Linked DNA regions of Homo sapiens: region 1 is linked to region 2. The links come from fine-mapping of genetic effects on gene expression. A gene starts in region 2. The other region holds a variant in brackets. All regions are shown on one strand. Distances are from middle to middle. Region 1 holds the start of RBCK1 (RANBP2-type and C3HC4-type zinc finger containing 1). Region 2 holds the start of TRIB3 (tribbles pseudokinase 3).

What was found. PIP is the estimated chance that this variant, and not a neighbour inherited with it, causes the effect.
Region 1: its variant is fine-mapped to the expression of TRIB3 in whole blood (TOPMed, PIP above 0.99).

The regions. Positions count from the first base shown.
Region 1 is chr20:404,375-413,934 of GRCh38, reverse strand. RBCK1 (RANBP2-type and C3HC4-type zinc finger containing 1) reads right to left here and starts at 5,636. Exons shown (of 12, transcript NM_031229.4): 1 at 5,156-5,636; 2 at 3,910-4,054. The coding sequence starts at 5,177. RefSeq lists enhancers at 4,659-4,728, 4,739-4,838, 4,899-4,998, 4,408-5,048, 5,049-5,098 and 1 more and silencers at 5,669-5,938, 7,762-7,918. The variant G/A (reference allele first, on the strand shown) is at 4,595.
Region 2 is chr20:375,029-384,616 of GRCh38, reverse strand. It overlaps TRIB3 (tribbles pseudokinase 3), which reads right to left and starts at 3,857. Exons shown (of 4, transcript NM_021158.5): 1 at 3,448-3,857. RefSeq lists an enhancer at 1,740-2,738 and silencers at 2,424-3,013, 3,284-3,393, 3,414-3,573.

The DNA.
Region 1 (9,560 bases), 29 kb before region 2:
TTTTTTTTTTTTTTTTTGGTGATTTGTCTCTTATCTTTTTAAAGCAATCAGCTTATTTTCACAGAAACAACTCTTTCAGCGCTCATGTTTTATTAATTAATGTAATAGCTAAGTAAACTATGTTATTACCAATAACACATACAACAGGTATCATTTGCTAGGAAGCATCGGGTCCATCGATGAGAACCCAACAGCAGGTCTGAGAGGTGCCGGTTGCCCAGAGCCTCTCAAAACTCAGGTTCTGACCCAGCAAGTCTGAGGTGAGACCTGAGATTCCCCCCATGTTGTGGTCCACAGGCCACACTTTAGTAGCAAGATGGTGGCTGACATTGTACATTTTACAAAGGAAACGCCAGTGCCAGTTAGTTAATTCAGGGGATCAAGTGGAAGTCAACTGGGAAAGTGTCCACAATGATACTTCAACAAAAAAAGTAAGGAAAAGGAAAGGTGGAAGATGAGTATGTTAACTTCCTCATTTTTCATAGCAAGGAGTACACAGGTACTGTCTCAAGCAATCATTTCAAGAAGTAGATATCTCAATATTTTGTTTAAAATCAAGTGGCCAATGATCTACAGATTCAATGAAATCCCTACCAAAATTCCCAGTTGTTGTTGTTTTTTTTTTGCAGAAACAGACAAGCTGATCGTAAAATTTATATGGAAATTCAAGAGACTTGCAATAACCAAAACAATATTGAAAAAGAACAAAAGTTGGAGAACTTGTATTTCCTGATTTCAAATACTATGAAGCTATAGTAATTAGTGTGGTACTGGCGTAAGGGCAGATATATATTATAGTTCAATGGTATAGAAATGAGAGTCCAGAAATAAGCACTCACATTTATGGTCAATTAATTTCCAAAAAGGGTTAAGATGATTAAACAGAGGAAAACAGCCTTAACAAATAGTGCCGGCACAACTCAATATCCACGTGCAAAAGAATGAAGCTGGACCCTTACCTCACACCTTATATAAAAATTAAATCAAAATGGACCAAAGACCTAAATGTAAGAGCTAAAACCATAAAATCTTTAGAAGAAAATATAGAGGTAAATCTTCATGACCTTGGATGAGGCAACGATTTCTTAGATATGACACCAAAAGCACAAACAACAAAATAAAACATAGACTAACTGGACATCATCAAAATTTAAAACTTTTGTGGTTCAAAGGATACCATCAACAAAGTGAGAAGACAATCCACAGAATGAGAGAAAATTTTTGCAAATCATGTAGCTGATAAGCTAAAATGAATAAAGTACTTCTAGCTAAAATGAATAAAGTACTCCTACAACTCAATATAAAAACATAAACCCAGCCGGGTGCAGTGGCTCATGCCTGTAATCCCAACACTTTGGAAAGGCCAAGGTGGGTGGATCACCTGAGGTCAGGAGTTCAAGACCAGCCTGGCCAACATGGTAAGACCCGTCTCTACTAAAAATACAAAAATTAGCCAGTGTAGTGGTGGGCACCTGTAATCCAGCTACTCAGGAGGCTGGGGCAGGAGAATCACTTGAACCTGGGAGGCGGAGGTTGCAGTGAGCCGAGATTGCACCATTGCACTCCTGCTTGGGTGACAGAGCGAGACTCCATCTCAAAAAAAAAAAAAGATAAACCCAATTTTAAAATGGGCAAAAGACCTGAATAGGCAAACCTCCAAAGAAAATATGTGCATGAAAAGATGCTTAACATCATTTGTCATCAAATGGTTAGGAAATTGCAAATCAAAACCACAGTGAGATACCTCTTCAAACTTACTAGGATGGCTATAATCAAAAAGATAAACAACAACAAGTATTAGAGATGATGTGGAGAAACTAGAACCCTCATATATGCTGGTGGGAATGTAAAATGGTGCAGCCACTTTGGAAAACTGTCTGGCATTTCTTCAAAAAGTAACATAGAGTTACTGTATGACCCAGCAATTCCACTGCTAGTGTGTATCCAAGAGAAATGAAAACGTGTCCACACAAAAAGTTGGACACAAATGTTCACGGCAGCATTGTTTATAATAGCCAAAAAATAGAAACACCCAAATGTCCATCAACTGATTTAATGAGTAAAGATAATGAGATATGTCTATACAATAGATTATTATTTGGCAATAAAAAGGAATAAAGTTCTGGTTGGGCATGGTGGCTCACACCTGTAATCCCAGCACTTTGAGAGGCTGAGGTGGGAAGACTGCTTAAGCCAGAAGTTCAAGACCAGCCCAGACAACAAAGCAAGACCTTATCTCTACAGACTTTCTAAAAATTAGCCAGGTGTGGCTGGGTGTGGTGGCTCACGCCTGTAGTCCCAGCACATTGGGAGGCATAGGCGGGCGGATCACGAGGTCAGGAGATGGAGACCATCCTGGTTAACACGGCGAAACCCCGTCTCTACTAAAAATACAAAAAATTAGCTGGGCGTGGTGGCGGGCGCCTGTAGTCCCAGCTACTCGGGAAGCTGAGGCAGGAGAATGGCGTGAACCTGGGAGGTGGAGCTTGCAGTGAGCTGAGATCGCGCCACTGCACTCCAGCCTGGGGGACAGAGTGAGACTCCCATCTCAAAGAAAAAAAAAATTAGCCGGGTGTGGTGGTACATGCCAGTAGTCCCAGCTACCTGGGAGGCCAAGGCAGGAGGACTGCTTGAATCCAGGAAGTTGAGGCTGTAGTGAGCGATGATGGCACCACTGCACTTCAACCTAGACAAGAGACCCCATGTCAAAAAAAAAAAGGGGAATGAAGTTGTTAGACATGCTACAACATGGATGAATCTCGAAAACGATCCTAAGTGAAAGAAGCCAGATACAAAAGGCCACATATTGCATGATTCAACTTATATGGAATTTCCAGAAGGTAGATCCCTAGAGATAAAAAGTAGATTAGTGGTTGCCTAAGGTTGGGGAGTTAGGGAAAAGGTAGAGAGATGAGGACTGGCTGCTAATGAGTACCAGGTTTCTTTACAGGATGATGAAAATGTTCTAAAATTGATTGTGGCAATGGTTGCACAACCTTGAATATACTAAAAGCCATTGAACTGTATACTTTAAATGGTCGAACTGTAAGGATAAATAAATAAATAAAACTGTTTTAAGAAAAACCAAATGGGACCCACCAAGAGAACCAAAAATCAGAAACCATAAAACTATTGCCTTACTATCCAGTAATGAAAAAGCAGTCAAAAAATAACGATAGACACTAATGTTTATTATTGAGTGCATAACACGCCAGGCATTGTGCAAAGTGTTTCAGCATTGAGTTTAAGTCTCCTGGAGCACAGACCGACAGTATCCATTCTCTTCCCTTCCCTTACCAAGCGAACCCCTGAATTCTAGCTGAATATCTTGGCTATACAGTCTCCCCTCAAGCTGAACTGTAGCTGTGGGAATCAGTTCTGGTCCACAGGAATTAACGGAAGAAGTGTGTACAATTTTTGAGCTATGCTCTTTAGAAGAGTGTGGAGGGGTGTCTTTCTTCCCTTCCTCCTGTGATGTGATGGCTGGATGGAGCTGGAATGGCCATTTTGCACCATGAGGAATCTGGGAATGAATGGCAGAATGGTGAGAGAAACAATATGAGCCTCTGAGGACTGTCGGGAGCAGAACCTCCCTATCTGGACTCCCTGCCATCAAATTTGTTTACGTCACTGTTCCGTTTTCTTCTGTTGTATAAGGCCTAACATCCTAATACAGTACACCTCCTAACAACCCTATGAGATAGCTACTGTTACGGTCTGATTTTTAAAATGAGGACACACTGAGAGGTGAAGTGACCTGCTCTGTATTTCACAGTTGATTAATGACATAACTAGGGTTAGAAGCCAGGCCTCCTGAAGCCAGAACGTGCCATTAGGAAGAACTGTTCTACAGGCAAGAATATCCTGTCCTGCTGTCCCTTGGGTTCAGGCCAGCCATGCACTCCTCACCTGATGTCCTGCGTTGGGGAGACCTCAGGCTTCAGTTGCACACTCAGGGGCACCCGTTGCTCTGCCAGCCAGATGGCACACTTCATTGCCACCTGTTCATCCCCGCCCGCCACTGCTCGGGTGAGGCTCAGGGCCATTTCCTCTGCTGAAAGCCAGTACAGCAGGAGCCAGTTAGCACAGGGTTTATTTTCAGGAGCTGAGAGTAATGGGGTAGGAAAGGAGGCGATCCTTTGTGTGTGCTGCTTTCTCTGTCTTCCTGGTGAACTCCTACGTATCCTTCAGCACCCAGACTAAAAGTCCCTTTCTCCGGGAGGGGTTCTCTAATATTCCCCACTCCTCCTCACACTAGGCTCATTTGGTTGTTTGTCCTTCCCATTCCCAGGGTCCCTCATATTTCTATTCATTTATCCAACAAGCAGTTATTGAGCTTCTACTGTGTGCCACCCACTGTCCCAGGAACTGGAATCCCACAGAGATTTATAAACAGGGCCCCTCTCCTTATGGATCTCCCTGCCCAGTGGGGAGACAATGAACAAGTTTAACAAGAAAAAAAAAAAAAGTCAGATTGCGATCCTTGCTGGCAGGGAAATAAACAGGTTAAGGAGACCAGGGGAGGCCTCTGGGAGGGGGTAACACTGAAGCTAAGACCTGAAGGAGGAGAAGCTGCACGTGTCAAGCTCCAGTG[G/A]GGAAGAGTGGTCCAGGTGGAAGGAAGAGTAAGGGCCTTGGCCAAAAAATGGTTGGATGAGAACCGAAGGAAGCCAGTGGGGCTCCAGTAGAGTGAGCATGGCGGGGTGACTGAGGACAGATATCCTGTGGGCCACCCAGGGCCTCTGGGTTTTGTTTGGAGAACACAGAGGGGCATGGGAGGGTTTCCAGCAAGGCAGTGACTGACTTCCGTTCTACAACCCTAGGTGCAGGGGACAAGAGAAGAGGCAAGTACCCCTGCTTCTCAGGTCAACTGACGTCTGTCTCCCACCAGCCCAGGAGGTCTCCAAGTTCAATGCCCTGTGTCCTCTGCGAGTCCCCTAGCCCCATCTCAGCACAGAGCCAGCCCAAGGAGTTCTCAGGGCCCCAAGATGGCTCTGGAAGCCAGCAGGTACCAAAGGAGGAAACTGATGGGGAGGAGGGTAGAGGGAGGGCAGGCTAAAGCCCCCTCTCCAAGGCCCTTCTGGCCAGGGGCAAGGCCAGGTCCTGCGGGGCCCACTTCCCACCGGAAGTTCCCCAGCCACCTCCAGCCTGTGCCCACCTTTCTTGGTCTTCTCGTCCATCTGGCGTGGCTGTGCCCATCCCCCTGGGGGGGACCGTGCCTCCTGGGAAATGCTACCTCCGGGTCGCCTGGGAGAGGCGGGAGACCAGGAGCAACTCAGCCAGGCCGTGTGGCCTCCGGCGCGGCCCAAGCCCTGTGTGTGCCTCGCTGTCCCCGCGGCAGTCGGGAAGCATCACACTGCCCGGTGACCAGGCCGGGATCCTGCGTGGGGCGGTGAGAGGGCAGCGGGCGCCGAGACAGGTCCGCACTGGGCGCAGGAGGAAACGGGACCAGCCGAGGTGGGAAGAAGCGGGGAAAGGACGCCCGGACACCACCCAGCCGGGGCGTTCCAAGTCCCGGAGGACCCCCACTTGCGGGAGCGCCCCTGGCGTCCCGGGTTTCAAGGCAAAGCCCTCTCTCCTCCCGGGAGGCCCCAGTTCTTCGCAAGGGGAGCGGCTTCGGCGGAAGAGAAAGTGAAAGTGGCGGCCCCGGAAGTGGGGCGGGACTGGGAGGGGGGGCCGGAAAAATTGTCGCCTCATCCGGGACCTCCACTGCCCGGCTACCCGGCGGCGGCGGACGCCGAGTGCGGGGTCCCAGCGGTCCCGGCGCTCCTGTTTGGGGCGACCCCACCCCGTCCTCCGGGGCTGATCGCGGGTCCCCGGACTCCCGCCCGGGTCACCCTGCGGGCCGCATCGCAGAGCCGCGGGAAGGAGCTGGGCCGCAGGCGGGGTGGGCGGGGCCGGGGCGGGGCCGGGGGCGGGGCCGGGGGGGCCGGGGGCTGGGGGCGGGGCCGGGGTGGGCCGGGGGCCGGGGCCGGGGCCGGGGGCGGGGCCGGGGGCAGGAGCAGGAGCCTGAGCAGGAGTCGGCGCCGGAGCCGGGGCTGGAGGGCGGCGGGATCCACAGCGTCGAGCCGCTGGGGACGGGTTAGGAGCGCGCCCTGCGAGCCCGGCGCCTGCTCACCCAAGCCTCAGGCATACCTCGGGGCAGGCCCGGTCCTTGGCCCCGTTTGCACATGAATAAACGAAGGCTCTGTTTGTTGATGACCTGTCCAAGGCCACTCAGCCGAGGTTTGAATCCAGGCCTGGCAGGCTCAGGAACCCGCCCTTACCCAGATCCGACGCTGCCTCTCAGCGGTCACCGTCTGTCTTTTCGTTGAGCTATTGGTGAAGTTTGCATTCGTCTGCCTCATGCGCCGCTTTAATTTTTCTCCCGTTCCTCGTCCCATCGATCAGCAGATCCTGCGGGCTCCACTTGCAGAATCTCATCCCTCACCTCCTCCGGCCCCATCCCGCTCCAGCTCCATCAGTGCTCCATCATCTCAGGGGTCTTGAACCAGCCTCCTCCTGGGCCTCCTTGCTTCTCTTTTTGCCCCCTACCGTCCATTTCCACCTAGCTGCCGGAGAGTCCTGTTAAAATGTAAATCAAACCCATGCCACTCCCCGACCCAAGTACTCCCATCTCACTTAAAGCAAAATCCGAGATCTGTCCCAGGGCTCGCAAATTGCCTCCCGATCTCTGTCTTCGTAGCTGACTGCCCTGCCCCTGCCTCATTCCACTCAAGTCCCATTGACCTGCTGGGTCCTGGAGTAAGTCAGACACACTCCCGCCCTAAGGCCTTTGCACCTGCCATAACCCAAACGTCTGCATGGCTCCCTCCTTCCCTTTATTTTGGTCTTTACCCAAAAATCTTCCCTAGTTACTCCATCTGAAATTTCACAGACACACGTATCCAGCATTTCACATCCGCTTTCCTGGCTTCATTTTTTCTTCTCAGCATCTATTACTGTCTAACGGAGCATGTTTTACTTATTTATGTTATTCTGGGTCTGTTTTCCTCTCCTAGAGGGCAGGGACTTTGGTTTGTTTTGCTCACTGCTGTGTTCCTGGTGTCTAGAACAGTTCCAAACACATAATGGAGGCTCCATATGTTGAATGAAGGAATGAACCTCAGACCTTCATCTGGGATAATTTTTCTTTTGCCGGAAACACATCCCTTTAGACAATGTTTCTTAACTTTGGCTGTACATTTGAATGGCCTGGGGAAGCCTTTTTTTTTTTTTTTTTTTTTTTTGAGATGGAGTTTCACTCTTGTTGCCCAGGCTGGAGTGCAGTGGCGTGATCATGGCTCACTACAGCCTCCAACTCCTGGGCTCAGCTTCCCGAGTAGCTGCAAACCACGGGCACGTGCCACCACAGCTGGCTAATTTTTGTAGAGACAGGGTTTGGTCATGTTGCCCAGGCTGGTCTTGAACTCCTGGGCTCAAATGATCTGCCCACCTCGGCCTCCCAAAATGCTGGGAAATGGTTGCTGTTGAGATATCATCACCTGTCAATCTAACTGCTGTTCTTTTTATAAACAGCTTTATTGAGATATCATCACCTGTCAATCTAACTGCTGTTCTTTTTATAAACAGCTTTATTGAGATATAATTTATATGCCATAAAATCCACCCACCTAAAATATACAATTCAATAGTTTTTAGTAACATTTACAGAATTGTACACCCATCATCACAATCAAATTTTAGGACATTTTTGGCTGAGCATGGTGGCTCACACCTACAATCCCAGCACTTTGAGAGGCCGAGGTGGGCGGATCACTTGAGGTCAGGAGTTCGAGACCAGCCTGGCCAACATGGTGAAACCCTGTCTCTACTAAAAATACAAAAATTAGCCAGGTGTGGTGGCGGACATCTGTAATCCTAGCTACTGCAGAGCCTGAGGCATGAGAATGGCTTGAACCTGGGAGGCAGAGGTTGCAGTGAGCTGAGATCGCACCGTTGTACTCCAGCCTGCGTGATAGAGCGAGACTCTGTCTCAGACCAAAAAAAAAAAAAGAAAGAAAGAACATTCTTATCACCCCAAAATAGACCTGTACTCATTAGCAGACATTCCCTGTTTCCCATCCTCCAACTGACAGCACTAATATACTTTATGTCTCTATAGACTTTCCTCTTCTTGATATTTTATAGAAATTAGATCTTACTGATGGGCCACAGTGGCTCATGCCAGTAATCCCAGCACTTGGGGAGGCCAAGCCAGGTGGATCGCTTGAGCCCAGGAATTCAAGACCAGCCTGGGCAACATGGTGAAACCCCATCTCTACAAAAAATACAAAAATTAGCCGAGTGTGATGGCGTGCACCTGTAGAGCAGTGATCGTCCCACTGCACTCCAGCCTGGGTGACAGAGTGAGACCCTGTCTCAAAAAGAAAATTAGATTTTGACAATATGTGAACCTTTGTGACTGGCTTCTTTCACTTGGCATAACTTTGGGGTTTTTCTTGACATAACGTTTTTGAGGTTTATCCATGTTGTAGTACTGGTTTTTTGTTTGTTTTTTGTTGTTGTTGTTTTGGGGTTTTTTTGTTTTGTTTTGTTTTTTGTTTTTAGAATCTCTGATTCTTTTCCTCTGAGTGCTTTTAAGAGTTTTTTAAAAAAAATCTTTGGCTTTTTGCACTTTTACTATGATGTGTCTATGTGTAAAATTTATGGAGTTTCTTGAATCTGTGATTGGTGTCTGATTTCTGTCTCACTAATTCCCTCTTTAGCCATATCTAGTTTGCTGTTTAGCCCATCTTTTAAATTTAATTTGTGTGTGTGTGTGTGTGTGTGTGTGTGTGTGACAGAGTTTCACTCTTGTTGCCCAGGCTGGAGTGCAAATGGCACGATCTTAGCTCACTGCAACCTCTGCCTCCCGGGTTCAGGTGATTCTCCTGCCTCAGCCTCCTGAGTAGCTGGGATTACAGGTGTCTGCCACCACTCCTGGCTAATTTTTTGTATTTTTAGTAGAGACAGGGTTTCACCATGTTGGCCAGGCTGGTCTCGAACTCCTGACCTCAAGTGATCCACCCACTTCGGCTTCCCAAAGTGCTGGGATTACAGGTGTGAGCCACTGTGCCTGGCCTAAAAATTTTGATTATTGTATTATTTTATTTTAGAAGTTCTGTTAGGTTATTTTAAAATTTGTTGTCATGTGATATAATTTTCTATACTTTGGCAATGTTTCTAGGTTATTTATTTATTTAAACGCAGTAAACTTTTTTTTTTTTTAGACAGAGTTTCGCTCTTGTTGCCCAGGCTGGAGTGAGATGGTGCGATCTCAGCTCACTGCAACCTCTCCCTCCCGGGTACAAGCGATTCTCCTACCTCAGCCTCCTGAAGTACCTGGGATTACAGGAGCCTGCCACCAGGCCCAGCTAATTTTTTTGTATTTTTATTTGAGACGGGGTTTCCCCATGTTGGTCAGGCTGGTCTTGAACTCTTGACCTCAGGTGATCCATGCGCCTTGGCCTCCCAAAGTGCTGGGATTACAGGCATGAGCCCCCGTGCCCGGCCAACATTTTGTTTTATAATCTGCGTCTGATAATACTGATATACAAACTCTGGGCATATTTGTTTCTATC
Region 2 (9,588 bases):
GCCGAGGCAGGCAGATCACAAGGTCAGGAGATCGAGACCATCTTGGCCAACATGGTGAAACCCCATCTCTACTAAACATACAAAAATTAGGTGGGCATGGTGGTGCATGCCTGTAGTCCCAGCTACTCGGGAGGCTGAGGCAGGAGAATCACTTGAGCCTGGGAGGCAGAGGTTGTAGTGAGCTGAGATCTCGCCACTGCACTCCAGCCTGGGGACAGAGCAAGACTCTGTCTCAAAAAAAGAGAAAAAGAAGAAAAAAACGTCTATTTCATTTTAGCTATTAAGTGGCTGTTTCTATATTACAGCTGAGCCTAATCCTAATTAACACACAATAGGATTTGGAATTATCCAAAGGCAGTGGGGAGCCACTGAAGGATTTCAGCAGGGGAACATCATGCTTTTAGGGTGGATTTGAAAGTACAAGACGGGGCAGTGAGACTAGCTAGGAGGCCCACACAAGCACGAGTCCAGGCAGGAGAAGGTGACCTGGACTAGGGGGTGCTAGATGGAGACGCGAAGTTAAGGGCTCATAGGAGGAAGATCAAGAGGACTCAGTGGCAGACTGGATGGACTGGATGGATTGGATGTGAGGGGTGAAGGAGAGGGTGGAATCGAGGTGAGGTCCAGCCTTTGGCTCCTGCAATGAGGAGGGATGATGGCTTCATGTCCTGAGCTGGGGGAGAAGCCTGTATTTTGGGGACTGTGGAAGAAAACTGTTAAGTATTTCAGACCCTTATGTCTTGGCAGTGTCATGAAAAGTGGGTTTATACTGTGGAATAGTGGCAGTGCAGCCACTAACAATGAAGACAGTGCTAGTGGGAGGATAAAAGGTACCACCTCTGAGGAGTGCATTTTGACAATATCAAAATGAAAAACAGGCTGGGTGCAGTGCTTCATGCCTGTAATCCCAGTACTTTGGGAGGCTGAAGCAGGAAGATCACTTGAGCCCAGGAGTTCAAGACCAGCCTAGGCAACGTAGCGAGACCCTGTCCCTAAGAAAAAAAAAATTATCTGGTCATGATGGCACACAGCTGTAGTCCCAGCCATGCAGGAGGTTGAAGTAGGGGAATCACTTGAGCCCAGAAGGTAAAGGCTTCAGTGAGCCATGGTCAGGAACTCTAGCCTGTGCAACAAAGTGAGACTGTCTCAAAACAAAGCAAAACAAAACAAAACAAAAACAACGATGAAAAGCGTGTGAGCTTTGATTCAGCAATTAATCCCATTGCTAAGAATTTATTCTGTAGAGGTGTGTGTGTGTAAGCATGCAAATACACAGTTATTCCTGCAGCCCTTTTGACAGAAATAATTGGCTGTCTATAATTACAGGGCTGGTTACATAAATTATACTTCATCCACACAACGGAACAATGTGCAGCCATTTAAAAGGTTGAGGATGCTCTTTATAGGGTAATTGGAAGGATCTCCAGAGTGAACTGTTAAGTGAAAGGAAAGCCACCATTCACGCAGCTGTGTGACTGTGTGTGTGGTGGCTGAAGGAGAGGGCAGTAGGGCATGGTCAGGGCAGACGGGTTCTCTCTAGAACCCATCTGCCCACCCACTTAAACTCCATTCCAAGGAGGTGCATGCCCAGGTATGGGCATTGGTGCGAGAGACCTCAGCCTGGTTAAAGACCTTCCCAACAGTTCAAGGCAGGATTAACAAGGCAACATGAGTCAGTTACCAGACAGAGGCCCACCTCTCCAAGTACGCTGCTCCCAAATGGAAGAGCTGCCTTGGAAGGGAAGGCCTCCCCACATGAGTGAAAGGTCATGACTTTGGCTTGGTAAGAATGCAGTAAGGAGTGGCTGTAGTCAGATATTCCTGGGTTCTAATCCTGTCTCAAACCCTTTCTAGCTGGGGGGTACCCCTGGTCAAGTTCCTCAAGCTTTCTGAGCCTCAGTTCCTGTAAAGTGGGAACAGGATGCAAAGCTTACAGGTTTTTCGTGATGATGAAATGAAAACACAAATGAAGCATGTAGAGCTTATGGACCTGTTGCCAGGTAGGTGTCAGGAAATGGTCATTATTAGCACTCATCCTGTTATTCTTCACAGCAAGATGCATAAGTACCATCCTTGGGAGTCTTAGAAAGCTCCCCAGGTTCGAGGCTGGGATGACACTCCTTACATCTCAAGGCTGTTCTGAGTCACGCAGGATGATACCTGGCTGTGCACATGCTTTGTGCCCTGTGCAGCAGGAGACTGCCTGGAGTCCCTCTGGCCTGTGCCACATCAGTAGTCCAGGCTGCCTTGGCCCCGGCCATCCCTCAGAGCCTGTTGGGGCCTGGGATAAGCTCCACCCAGATGGGGACAGATGCGGTAACTGAGTCTATACATCTTGGGCAAGGCATTTTGCAGACCACACTGCAGAATAGAATCTGTGATGTGGAATGAAAGCAGCCCCTAATATCTACCTCTTGCTGTTCCCTGCCACACTCGGGACCCAGGGAAATGAGGGCGGGTTACATCAAGCGCAAGCGCGCGCGCGCACGCACACACACACACACACACACACACACAGCCCTCCCAGCTGTCACACCCATGGTCTACCCGAGCAAGGCCGCACCCCCACCCCGCCCCGCCCCCCGCAGCCAGGCCCCTCCCGTGGGAGCCCAAGCGAAAGGCGGCGGGTGTCCGAGTCAGAAGTTTCAGCGGAAATTGAAGCGCGGCCCTGGGACAGGAGGGGGGTGAGGCAGAGGGAAGGAGGTGGCTGTCGTCCCCCGCCCTCCCCGGTCTGCAGGCACAGCACACACCGCAGACACGCGCGCACCGTCCACCTGCAAACCCGGAGCCGCGCACTGGGGAGAACCAGCGGCCCTGCCGGGCCAGAGATCGCGCGCTGCGCCCCCGCTCCCACTCCCTCGGCTCCCCCGCTCCAGGGCACCCCAGCCCTGTCCCGGCGGTGTCCCCTGCACCGCCAACCCCTGCCACCAAGTGCCCAGCCCTCCAGACAGCTCTCACCATCTCCTGAGACACAGGTGCTCGGGACCCACCCTCACCCAGGACTCTCCCCTGCGGGTTCACGAGGACCCCCTCGGATCCCCCGCCACCCCCAGAGTCCTCCAGTGCCCCCCACAAGCCCCTCACCGCACCACACGACTCCCCTATCCCGCACTCACGCAAAACAGACCCCCGCACGCCCTCCTCTAGGGGTGACGGCCGGACACCTCCGTCCCTGGCTTCCCCAGCCCAACTCGGGCGACCCCACGCTCCGCGGGGCCGCGTCACCTGAAGCCCGGGGGGAGCACTCAGCCCAGGCCCGGATCAAAAGGGATCTGACCTGGCCGCGCCCCGACGGCGGGGTCTGTGAAAAGGTGTGTAAGGGGCGTGCGTGCGTGTAACACGCGGCAACACGCAGACGCCCAGAGGCTTCCGGCGCCCCCTTCCCCGGCCGCCCCCTCCCGCCCCCCGGCCTCCGGGCGAGTCCGCAGGCCGCACCCCGCCGAGTACCTCGCCCCGTCGTTCCGCGTGGGCCCGGGCGCCGCCGGGGCTCAGAGCCTCCAGGGCACCAGCAGGTGGGCCGGCCCGCTGCGCTGCTGCCGAGCTCGGGATCCCAGCCCAGCTCCAGCCCTGCCCGGGTCCTAGCAGCGGACGCGCGCGGAGCCGCCTCCACTTCCGCTGCGAGTCTCGTGCGCGCCCGGCCCCCGGTCCGGGTGATGCAAACCGGAGCTAATCCCCCGGTCCGGGTGATGCAAACCGGAGCTAATCCCCCGGTCCGGGTGATGCAAACCGGAGCTAATCAGCCGCCGTCTGATGCCCTCGGGCCCGGGATCGCACCATCCCCCGCGCCGCGCCCGGGCCTCTCTCCTCTGCATCCGCTGCACCTGGGACCCGCCCTCGCTGGCCCCCTAGGGGCGTCTGGTCAGTGCAGACATCAGCCACGGACTCTCCCTATCACCTTGGAAAAAAAATTTGCTCTTTTTTTTTTTTTTTTTGAGACAGAGTCTTGCTCTGTCGCCCAGGCTGGAGGGCGGTGGCGCGATCTCGGCTCACTGCAAGCTCCGCCTCCCGGGTTCACGCCATTCTCCTGCCTCAGCCTCCCGAGTAGCTGGGACTACAGGCGCCCGCACCACGCCCGGCTAATTTTTTGTATTTTTAGTAGAGACGGGGTTTCACCTTGTTAGCCAGGATGGTCTCGATCTCCTGACCTCGTGATCCACCCGCCTCGGCCTCCCAAAGTGCTGGGATTACAGGCGTGAGCCACCGCGCCCGGCCAAAAATTTGCTCTTCTGAGCCTCGGTTTCCCCACCTATGAAATGGGAAGAACATTCCTCCTTCTCAGGATGGTGCTTAAAAGAGCAAACAGTGACTGTTGTCGGGGTGCTTCCCCTTTTTTATAAAGCACATTCCCAGCACTGCCTTATAAAACCTTTAGGAGAAGTGGACATGCGGGAATCTCCATTCTCCACATTCTACTGAGAGCCAGCCTGAGGCCCAGCTATGGGCAAGTGGTTCAGAAGCTTCAGGAAGGCCTATGGACTTAAGAGCTGACTCTGGGCTCAAAGGAACCACCGTGGCGCCCTTGGGAGGCCTAAGGTCTGCTGAGCTTCCCCGCGTCCCTTTGCTAGAGGCAGTGCGGCCTAGTGGTGAAGAGCCCCTAGAGCCAGCTGGCCTAAGAGTGCACTCCACCTCCGCTCCAACCCACAGTGCTACCCCAGAAAAGCTACCTAAAACCCTGCCTCAACTTCCTGCTCCATAAAATGGGCTCATAATTGCGCTCACTTCATAAAGTTGTTGTGAGGATTAAATAATTTAATATGTGTAAGACGCTTAGAACAGTGTGTGGCACATTGCGGATGCTCAGTGGAGTGTAAACAATGGAGACAGAGAGGGAAAGAGGCCTTTAATATGCTTGCACCCAAGGCCTGGGAGGGCTTGGTGCTACTTGATTTGGGGTGAAACACCCCTCTGCGTCCTAGGCGTCCAGCACCTTTCTTTTTTTTTCTTTTTTTGAGGCAGAGTTTCACTCGTTGCCCAGGATTGAGTGCGATGGCACGATCTCGGCTCACTGCAACCTCCACCTCCCGGGTTCAAGCGATTCTCCTGCCTCAGCCTCCCAAGTAGCTGGGATTACAGGCATGCGCTACTATGCCTGGCTAATTTTGTATTTTTAGTAGAGACAGGGTTTCTCCATGTTGGTCAGGCTGGTCTCGAACTCCTGACCTCAGATAATCCACCTGCCTCGGCCTCCCAAAGTGCTGAGATTACAGGCATGAGCCACCGCGCCCGGCCTGGGTCCAGCACCTTTCTTAGAAATCCCTTTTGATCTGAATTCACCAGTGTCAAAAAATAACTCCTCAGCTGGGTGAGCTGGCTCATGTCTGTAATCCTAGCACTTTGGGAGGCCAAGACGGGAGGATTGCTTGAGGCCAGGAGTTTGAGAACAGCCTGGATGACATAGTAAGACCCTGTCTTTACAAAGAGAAAAAGATAGCGGGCATGGTGGTACGAGCTTGTGGTCCCAGCTACTTAGGAAGCTGAGGTAGGAGGATCACTTGAGCCCAGGAGTTCAGGTTACAGTGAAACGTGATTGTGCCACTGCACTCCAGGTTGGGTGACAGAGTGAGATCCTGTGTAATAAATAAATAAGTAAGTAAGTAAAATAACTCCTCTAGAGGCTGGGCGTGGTGGCTTATGCCTGTAATCCCAGCACTTTGGGAGGCTGAGGCAGGTGGATCACGAGGTCGGGAGATCAAGACCATCCTGGCTAACACGGTGAAACCCGTTTCTACTAAAAGTACAAAAAATTACTAAAAATACAAAAAACACACCTGTAGTCCCAGCTACTCGGGAGGCTGAGGCAGGAGAATCGCTTGAACCCAGGAGGCAGGAGTTGCAATGAGCTGAGATTGCGCCATTGCACTCCAGCCTGGGCGACAGAGCAAGACTCCGTCTCAAAAAAAAAAAAAAAGTAAAATAAAATAAAATAACTCCTCTAGGCAGAGGCTGGATGGGAGGCAGGGTGGAGTCATATTTGTTTTCCTGTTTCCAAATCCCTGGGGACCAGCTCACCTGTGTCCCAGAGCCTTCAGGGTATACCAGGGCATTCTGGGATCTCATTTAATCCTGGCAACTCCCCTGCTGGGGAGGGGTGAATAAACTCATCCTCTATCCTGGGACACCGAAATGGTTAGGAAGATCCCACAGCTGTGAGGGGTGAAGAAAGGTGGGAGGGCTGTTTCCTGAGCACCCCTCTGAAGGTGTGCTGGGTTTGCTTGTACATTCCCAACTAACGTTGTTTTGTGCTGTGTCAGCCCCTGTTCTAAATGCTGGGGACTCAGCAGTGACCAGAATGATCCACCCCTGCTCTTACAAATCTTATAAATCAGTGGAGAGATAGACCATTATCAGGAAAATAAAATTAAAACCATGATCATTTAAAATAGATTGCATCATGCATTTTCTTGAATAAAATAGGAAAGACTTGTTCTCCGTCATGACTGAGGGTGGCCATTTTCAGCAGGGCTTATCAGAAAGGTGATGTTTAAACTAAAAGCTGAGGGAAGAGAAGGGGTGAAGAGTGCAAAGATGTGAAAGGGAGACAGAGAAAAACAGTAAGTCACCTCCATTCTGCAGACAAGAAGAGTTAAGGTAAGGGACCTACCCAAGACCACCCAGCTGGTCGTATAAGACTGATTTCAGGCTGGGCGCGGTGGCTCACGCCTGTAATCCCAACACTTTGGGAGGCTGAGGCAGGCGGATCACCTGAAGTCAGGAGATGGAGACCAGCCTGGCTAAGGTGGTGAAACCCGGTTTCTGCTAAGAATACAAAAATTTAGCCGGGCGTGATGGCATGTACCTGTAATCCCAGCTACTCGGGAGGCTGAGACAGGAGAATCGCTTGAACCCAGGAGGCGGAGGTTGCAGTGAGCCAATTGCGCCACTGCATTCCAGCTTGGGCAACAAGAGTGAAACTGCATCTCAAAAAAAAAAAAAAAACAAAAAGACTGATTTCAGATTTGAACTTGGGGCAGCTGACTCCAGTGCCCATGCCATCCTGGGATATTTCACGAGCTTTGTATCCCTGCAGCCTCCACATGGACCTATGGGTATCGTGACAGGAACGGCACCCTGGGTATGGCCCCCAAATTTTGGTGACTTGTCACAGCTGGGTTTGTCAAATCCCAATTCTCTAGACCATTCTGTGTTCCAATAGAAATATAATGTGAGGCTGGGCGCAGTGGCTCATGCCTGTAATCCCAGCACTTTGGGAGGCGGAGGTGGGTGGATCATGAGGTCAGAAGATCAAGATCGTCCTGGCTAACACAGTGAAACCCTGTCTCTACTAAAAATACAAAAATTTGCCGGGCATGGTGGCACACACCTGTAATCCCAGCTACTCGGGATGTTGAGGCAGGAGAATCACTTGACCCCGGGAGGCGGAGGTTGCAGTGAGCCGAGATCATGACACTGCACTCTGACCTGGGCGACAGAGTGAGACTCCATCTCAAAAAAAAAAAAAAAAATTAAAATATTCAATAAAATAAAAAATTCTCAGTCACACTAGCCACATTAGCCATACTTGAAGTGCTCAATAACCACATGTGGCAAATGGCTACTGCTATGGTTTAAATGTGTCCCCCAAATGTCATGTGCTGGAAACTTAATCCCCCAATGTGGCAGTACTGAGCGGTTGGGACTTTTAAGAAGTGATTGGATCATGAAGCCTCTGCCCTTATGAATGGACTAACCCACTCATGGATTAATGGATTTGTGGGTTTTCACAGGAGGAGAACTGGTGGCTTTATAAGAAGAGGAAGAGAGACCAAAGCATAGCATGTCAGCATGCCCAGTCCCCTCTCCACGCTATACCCTGTGCCACCTCCAGACACTTCAGAGACCAGGAATAAGGCCCTCACCAGAAGTGCCCCCTCAATCTTGGACTTCCTATCCTCCATAGCTGTAAGGAATAAATTCCTTTTCTTTCAAAATTGTTCAGTTTCAGACATTCTGTTATAAGCAACAGAAAACAGACTAAAACCACTACCATATTGAGCACTACCACCCTGTACCAAGAATTCCTAACACATGGTCCAGGGGTACAGCAGAGGCAAAGAGTCTAGGTAGGCTGGAGTTTGGCTCCTAGATCTACACCAGAAACACCAAATAGCCTCAAGCCTCAGTTTCTGCATCTATAAAATGCAGTTAATTATACCTCCCTTGCATTGCAGTCATAAGGATTCAATGCATTGGGACTGCCTCATGTCATAGTTGTATCACATTTCTTGGGTTCAAAACCACATCTATTTTGGAAAAGTTACTTCAGCTCTTTGTACTTCAGTTTCCCCATCTGTAAAATGGGGATAACAATAGTTCCTACCTCGTTGGTTTGCATGAGAATTAAATGACAATATTTGTAAAGTGACTGGAATATAAATGCTATATAAGCATTTATTTAGAAGCGAGGAAAAGAATGGTGACCAACCTCCCAAAATTAAATGCAGAAATGTACTCTTTTCTGGAGAGAGAGTCAGGCTTTTATGAATTTCTTTCTCCAGGCTCAGAACATCTTTCTACTCAGATTTCTGAGCCCAGAAGGCTGCTTTTCTCTTTCCTATAGGTTTGGTTTTTTGTTTGTTTGTTTGTTTTTTTGAGGCAGTGTCTCGCTCTGCTGCCCAGGCTGGAGGGAAGTGGCATGTGATCTTGGCTCACTGCAACCTCTGCCTCCCGGGTTCAAGCAATTCTCCTGCCTCAGCTCCCTGAGTAGCTGGCATTACAGGTGTGGACTACCACACCTGGCTAATGTTTTTGTATTTTTAGTAGAGACGGGGTTTCACCAAGTTGGCCACGCTGGTCTCGAACTCCTGACCTTAAATGATCCGCCCACCTTGGCCTCCTAAACTGCTGGGATTATAGGCGTGAGCCACTGTGCCCGGCCTCTTTGCTATAGTTCTGATGAGTTCCGTCTCTGACCCCCAGCACTGATGTGGGGCCCACAGCAATGACATGAGCCATGCCTGCCTCCTTTCCTTCCACATGGGTGTCCCTAGTGATTGCCATATGCCTAAAATTCCACCATAGGTGTCCTTGAAACTTTTCATCTTCATACATTTCCCCCACAAAAGTGACATGATGCCTTAGAACTTCTGGTTGCGTTCCAAGTCTGGCTGAAGCCACTGAGCCTGTGAGATTGTGGACAAGTCACCTCCCTTTGCGGGGGCTTCAAATTTCTTATCTGTAAAATAAGAAGAGAAAGTTGGAGTAGGTCAGTGAGGTCAGTGTTTTCTGAAATATACCATGTACAACAATGGCTGAGTGCCAGAGGGTTTTAGGGTCTCCAGATACCGTATGACATAACTTTGAATCATAATTGTGATACACTTAAACCCTTTCAGTTTTCTTGCTGTTTCTCCAAAGACTCAGGGAGAAAGTCTCATTTAACAGCTTCTTTTTTTTTTTTTCTTTTTCTTTGAGACGGAGTCTCGCTCTGTCACCCAGGCTAGAGTGCACTGGCGTGATCTCAGCTCACTGCAAGCTCCGCCTCCCGGGTTCACGCCATCCTCCTGCCTCAGCCTCCCCAGTAGCTGGGAATATGGGCGTGTGCCACCACACCCAGCTAATTTTTGTATTTTTGCTAGAGACAGGGTTTCA